Homo sapiens: one gene and its partner. The protein of the gene in region 2 purifies or fractionates together with the protein of the main gene of each other region. This does not show direct contact. Each region holds a gene or a part of one and is shown on either strand. Other genes may lie near its edges.

Region 1 (3,650 bases), on a different chromosome or scaffold from region 2:
TGGATCAGACTTTGAGAAAGAACCTAACCGCAATGCTTGTTTCTGAGTAAAGAGGTTAATTGTTTCACTGAGTCATTAATACAAATCAGTTCAATACAAGCAATAATCACTAAATGTTCAACACTAAGTCAATATCTGTATATGTATATGTACATGTATATCCACACATACAAATATACAGTGACTCTGGCCATTCTGTTCATGGAAAGAATGGTTTGTGATTGCTTTTCTTTCCAGAAAGCCTGCCAAAGTCATTAATGCCTGGGATTATCGGCAACTAAGACAAAAGTTTTTAAAATGCAATATAGCCCTAAGATGCAAGATACAGCTTCCAGGTATAAAATGTCTCTAGCTTTCAGACTTTGCAACTGGAGAGCCCACATCCACCCTAATGTTAAATGCTGCATTTTCATACAGATGTTACAGGCTATGAAAACTGTTCAAGGGCTAGATGCACCCACACCTCCACATCATTGAGCAGACCAGATGTAAATAGCAATATTTTTTGGCACAAATAATCACCAACATTAGTTGTACTGCAAATAAAATTAGGGGCCGGGTGCGGTGGCTCACGCCTGTAATCCCAGCACTTTGGGAGGCCGAGGCGGGCGGATCACAAGGTCAGGAGATCAAGACCATCCTGGCTAACACAGTGAAACCCTGTCTCTACTAAAAATAAAAAAAATTAGCCAGGCGTGGTGGCGGGCACCTGTAGTCCCAGCTACTCGGGAGGCTGAGGCAGAAGAATGGCGTGAACCCGGGAGGTGGAGCTTGCAGTGAGTGGAAATCGCGCCACTGCACTCCAGCCTGGGCGATGGAGTGAGACTCCACCTCAAAAAAAAAAGAGAAAAGAAAATTAGGGAGAGATCATATGATATGGTTTGGCTGTGTCCCCACTCAAATCTCATCTTGAACTGTAGCTCCCATAATCCTCACGTGTCACAGGAGGGACCCAGTGGGAGGTAACTGAATCACGGGGGCGGGTTTCTCCTCTGCTGCTCGTGACAGTGAGTAAGTCTCAAGAGAGATCTAATGGTTTTATAAACGGCAGTTTCCCTGCACACGTTCTTACGTGCCTCCATGTAATATGTGTCTTTGCTCCTCCTTTGTCTTCCACCATGATTGTGAGGCCTCCCCAGCCATGTGGAACTGTGAGTCCATTAAACCCTTTTTTCTTTATAAATTACCCAGTCTAGTGTTTCACAGAAGTATAAAAATGGACCAATGCACCATAACGGCATGTATTTAAATCACTGCTCTTATAATTCATATTTTACCTAAATTTACAGAACAGGCGTCGTTTATTAAGCACCTCACCCTCATTACTAACCCTACAATAACCCTGTCAGGAACACATTATGCAGTTGATAGACAAAAAAACAAAACTGAGGCTAGTTACCTGTGTCCAAAGCTTCACATCTAGTAAATTGAAGCCACACTGCAAACCCAGGCCTGTCTGCTTTCAATCACACACTCTTTCGAGTAAATACCATAAATTATTTGCTTCAACCTGGACAAATGAAACAATAACAGACCTTCAATTGTACTTTTAAAAGTCCACCATCAGTGTAAAACAAAAAAAGCAGCCTAACATTTACAGCTCGACAAGTGACGACACAAAGCATATCCATTAGGGCAACTGGTTCTTAGGAAGACACTGCAACGTGCGGTAAAGATATCCGTGCCCCTTCCCCGCTTTTTTTAAAGAGACAGAGTCTCACTCTGTGACCCAACCTGGAGCGCAGTGGTGCAGCCATGGCTCACTGCCACCTTGAGCTCCTGGGCTCAAGTGATCTTCCTGCCTCAGCCTCCTGAGTAGCTGGGATTACAAGCACATGCCACCATGCCTGGCTAATACTCCCATCTTTAAAACGAGGAAACTGAGATTCTAAAAGTATAAATGGCTTTCCACCATTATTGGTCTGCTGCAGCAATAGGACCAGGGCCAGTGTTTCAACTCTTCCCAGAGAGCCTAGAAAAAAGTAATTTTCAGGTTCAGTGAAAAGAAGTTAAAGACAAGCAAATTATAAACCATGTAAGCTGGCAGCAGCCATCTGAAAAGCAAAAACTATGATTACTGGAATTAGGGTCATGATGGATAGTGATTTTCAAACTAACATTACATTAATTTTCTGACGGCATGCTCCAATTTAGAAAACTGTATTGCAGAACCTTAATGACATCTGCCAACTAAAAATTTAAGTAAACCAAATCGAGCAGAGCATATGATGTTTCTGACAGGTGTAATTTAGAGATAGTACATAAAATTGGAAAATCGCTGTTGTCTTTTTATACACGGAAATAAGAAAAAGCTGTCCTTAATAGTTTTTTACTGAATTAACATCAAGTCTGGAGGATACTTAAGTATTAAATCATTATCTCATTGAAAAGCTAGTTTTAATTAAATACCTTTTTAAAGTTTTGTATATAAAACGAAATCTTGAAGTACTGTGAAGTCCAGTCGACTATTCCCCTTTGCCTGTGGCTGACAAATCAAGCCTTATCATGTATCTCAAATTAGAGGAATAATGAGGTACCAGGTGTGCACTAGAGTAAACCAAGATTAAAATTATATGTTTTAATGAAAACCTCTAAAAGGATAGTTTTATCCATGAATATATAATAAAAGTCAAATCCATGGCTTCTTAGTATAAGTGATGAAAACTCTTAATCATGTTAATAACTATATGAAAATCTTAATCTCTTTTAAATACCCAAAATCAGTAACTATCTCTATTTTAGCACCTCCTCTTTAAATAGACCCAGTTTGGATGGTAGAAGGAGTCCTCTGGCTACTGCTGCAATAATTCTATCTTCTGGGCAGACAGAAACTACTGTCTTTTGTAACATACGAATAATCCACCTCATTTCCCTCCAGACAAGGGAAATGTTCTCCAAGAGTCCCAGCTGTAACTAAGGAGGTGCAGGGCGACTCCCACTGTCTACCAGGTGATGGTCCAGCCAGCAGCTGGTGGCCGCAGCCCTTGTCTACATTAACTGCCACTGAAAATGATCATAGCCACTCTTTCAGTGGCTGAATACAGAGTGGGTATGGACAGCGAATGTCAGGAAAGAATGGGGAATACTGTCCATGTTAACCCTTCTGAAAGAGAAAGGAGGAGGAGGCGGGGAGCAAGGAGGCGCTGAGACACCTCAGCTACAGAGCACTGCTTGCGCTCCTCTCCAAGTGCCCCTCCACCCCCAGGCCACACTGAGCACCCGGCATCTGGGCAGCCCAGCTGCCAAATGTCAAAAACCAGGTCAGGGCCTGAAACTCAAAAGGCTAACTCCAATGAGAAGCAGGATGGTAAGCTTGGATCAGCAGTGAGACACTGCAACCTATAAAACCAAAACTCAACCTCTCCCTTAGGAAATCATTCCTCTCCAAGAAGCCAATTTTCTCTGCCCTTGTATCTAGCACCAACTTGTTTTCTTTTAACAGAAAAATATTTCCTATGAAATAACTGAGAAAGCAAAGCAAAGCAAAAAGAAACAGCTCTTCCCACCCCAATCCTCACCCACCCTGCAGGAGGTCAGCATGGCAAGAGGACACTATTTGGGGGTGGGGGAGGTGTGGGGTTATGGCTGCTAAAAGCATTTTCAAAATAGGCTCATAAATGCCAACTGATTAAATCCTCCTGAAAAGCCTG
Region 2 (3,459 bases):
AGGAACTTCTGGATGTTTATGAATTATGTAATTTTTAAAATGTGGCATTTAATTAAAGTATTATAATGTATTAATGTAACTCAATTAACTGCTTATTACAGGTATTGGAATTAGCAGCTCATGCCTATTTCTCAGAAGTAAGCAGCCATACTGATTATCATTAGCTAACTCTTATTAGTTTTGATTTTGCAGCCCCATGTATCCTAGCATGTACCCTGCTGTGTCCCCCACCTGACTCATCTAGGAAGTGCAGAAAGTTCCCTATTACTCCATTTCCTTGGTTTTCCCGCCTCACCTTCCCTCACCCTCTTAACACTACTGTAGACTTAGGGTTGGCCTGCAGAGGCCCACAGTTTTTCTCCAAAATGGTCAAAGAGAATAGAATAAATTAGTTTTGCTTTTCCTGGTGTAAATCTGCTGCATTGAAGGTTTGTTCAGCTGATAGTGACCTTAGGAACAAGAGCCCTGGGTTGGTGCGCACCTGCATCCCAAAGGCCTGGGAACGTTTGGGGCAATTTTATATAGCAGTACAACCATAATTCCTTTACTCATCACTGACTTTCGTGAAATGGAATGTTAAACTACCTGTTCATTCTTATTTGTTTTCATACCAGAAAAAGGAATGATGTCCTAAAGGGCAGGGTGGGGAGAGCAGGTCGAGTGATGATAAACAAAACAACAAAACGTTAAGTTTCATTGAGCCATTCCTCTGAATTACTGAGCAAGTGCCCTACTCACTGTGTAGTGGAAACTTTGGCCAGCTGAGAAGGCAGCTAACCCTTTTCAGGCCAGTAGGATAAAGGTTGGATAAGGAAATAATCAAGTCAAAGACTTAATCTACCTCCCCAAGGAACCTATATTATGAGTTAAGACAGTTTTCTTATCTGGATTGGATCCATTGAGTCTAAATGAGAATAACATGGTTCTAATTATGACAAGCATAGTAATTTTCTCACATCCATTACATTTTAGATTTGAGACTTTGATTGGTGAGTGGCCATTTTTAAATATTCTGTTAGGCCAGGTGTGATGGCTCACGCCTTTAATCCCAGGACTTTGGGAAGCCAAGGTGGGAGGATCGCTTGAGCCCAGGAGTTTGAGAACAGCCTGGGAAACATAGCAAGACCTTGACTCAAAAAAAAAAAACCAAAAAAAGAAAAAATCAGCCGGTAGTAGTGGCACACACCTATAGTCCCAGCTACTCGGGAGGCTGAGGTGGGAGGATTGCTTGAGCCCGGAAGACAAGGCTGTAGTAAAATCAAGGCCCCATGCCACTACAATCCAGCCTGGGTGACAGAGTGAAACTCTGTCAAAAAAAAAATTTGTTAAATTTCTCCTAAATGATTGTACATTTTTAATCACAAACAACCTGTGCTTTCCTGTCTCTGATCTACTGAAATGATTCCATTTTTCTAAAACCAGTTATTGGTGTCTATTTTCTATGAAGCATATATAAAGTGACAAAACTTCATTACTCACTTTTGCAGTCATCTAATTTTCAATATCTTTTCTAATTGGACACACAATTACCTAACAATGGAAAGTCATTGTTCTCAGAATGAGAGTCCTTCTCAGGCCCAGGCCTGAGGCTCATGGTGTGTGTGTGCTCTCAGGCGGAAACATCCTCCTGATTGTCCTGTTGCTGTTTATTGTGGAATTGTGTCCCACACCCACCCCCTTGTGTTTGTGTTCACTAAATGAAGGCTGGAATCCTGCCTAACTTTGGATGATATTGTGCTTGTCATAGTCATATGAGCTGAAAACAAAAATAAAAAGCCCTCCATAAAATGTCTCCCCCTCCCTCCCCCTCTAGCCTCACCCCTAGCATGACTTGTGAGAAGTAACTCCTCGTTTTACCTGGCATGATTTCTAACTCAACATACATCTCCGCCTGTGAGATCATCCGAGATGTACTGTGGAATGCTCGTGCCTCCTCTAGGCTCCCCAGGACTAACCACTGCCTTGTCTGCATTTACGCCCAGGTCATACCCCGGCCCTGGCTTGCGCTCCTAACAAAGACGTGGCTGACTGCCTGGCCCTCATTTTGGCTACCATGATGCCTTTTTCTCCTTCCAGTACAATGATGGCTGTCAACTTCGTTTGTTTAAAAAAAGACAATTTGAGCAGGACGACCCTCTCCAATCTGGGTAGCATGGTTAGCCTGTGCAGTAACAACGTAGGCTCGGAGGATGGGTACAATGAAAATGATTCTGATTCGGAAACGTTTTGACTTTGGACTGTAGAAGCTTTTCTTTGATCACCTGTGTTGGAGGAAAGGAAAGAAGCTTGAATTCCAGGTTTATGTTGTATTCAAGTATTATTTGGGGCCTGGGCTTCCAGAAGCTAGTAGAGAAGGAATTAATCGAGGGAGGGCAGTGAGGCTGTTGGGTGGAACAGTCACACAGATGGCCCCAGTTTTGTTTTGTTTCACATTTTCTTTAAATCTAAGATACTTCTGTGAAAGTCTACCTCTCATTTTAAATAAAGAATAAAAGATGTATTTAATTCCTGTTCTTTGGGGATAATGCAGCAGAGAGGCAGCTGTTCGCTATGAATAATTTTTCTTTTCATGTATTTAGCAGTGAGTTCTCAGAAGTATATCAGTGTGACATTCATGTCCCCTGGGAGGGAAGGGAAGAGGCAGATAGGAAATGCCTCAAACTTCTTCTCACTTTGATGTTTACTTCCTCACTAGAAGCCAAAGGTAAAGGTGTCCATCTTCAGAAATAATGCCTGTAATAATCTTTTTAGAGAGTCCAACTATTTATATCCTCTCTATAGTAAGCATTTGAATATCCAGAACTTCTTTCTGAGGATCTCTGTTAAAGTTGCCAGATGAATTGAAAAATTGAACTTGCTTTTTTTGTTTAACACAGTGTTCCCTATAACAAGCCTGTGACTAATTTTCACTTAAGTGATTGAACCCAAATTTATCTAATAACATTTCAGGTGAAAATTATATTGCACCAAAACTTTGACACAATATGCAAAAATAGTATGAAACTACCCTTTGTTAATTTATTCTTAAATCAAAATACTAACTTTTAAAAAACATCAGAATCATCAGCATTGTTCATCAGTAGTAAAATGAGCTTCTCAGTCAAGGTCATACCAAGTCAGTGAAAAGTGTGACTGCAAAAAGGAACAAAAAAAGTGAAAGCAGAAAGTAGAAATGGGTGATTTAGCATGTAAAACCGATTGCCAGTTGCTTGATGATGAAATCAACATAGTGAATACTGTGTCTGCTCCCTCTGCCAAAGCTTCTAGGTCAAATGGACCCCGTTCCACACCTGGAACCGCTGTACAAAAAGAAGAATGAGACTCTTTAAAAATTATGCACATACACATGCACACATATATGTGTGCGTGTGTATATATATATATATGTGTGTGTGTGTGTAGTTCATCAGCCAGCTACACATGAGGACCAAAATGCTTCAGTCTAAAATGGAAGATACA

Evidence for each region.
Region 1: the proteins of ANKRD44 (region 2) and MTCL1 purify together in Homo sapiens (affinity purification with mass spectrometry; 4 studies listed by BioGRID and IntAct, with this or other methods). This does not show direct contact.

Annotation. Positions count from the first base shown.
Region 1 is NC_000018.10:8,711,999-8,715,648, reverse strand, and holds part of MTCL1 (microtubule cross-linking factor 1), read right to left. Parts: intron 1,508-3,650; exon of another isoform or gene 1,400-1,507; intron 1-1,399. UniProt on the Homo sapiens protein: Microtubule-associated factor involved in the late phase of epithelial polarization and microtubule dynamics regulation.
Region 2 is NC_000002.12:196,989,451-196,992,909, reverse strand, and holds part of ANKRD44 (serine/threonine-protein phosphatase 6 regulatory ankyrin repeat subunit B), read left to right. Parts: intron 1-101; coding exon of another isoform or gene 102-154; exon of another isoform or gene 155-1,763; intron 1,764-1,813; coding exon of another isoform or gene 1,814-1,830; exon of another isoform or gene 1,831-1,982; coding exon of another isoform or gene 1,983-2,230; exon of another isoform or gene 2,231-3,260; coding exon 3,261-3,319; 3' UTR 3,320-3,459. UniProt on the Homo sapiens protein: Putative regulatory subunit of protein phosphatase 6 (PP6) that may be involved in the recognition of phosphoprotein substrates.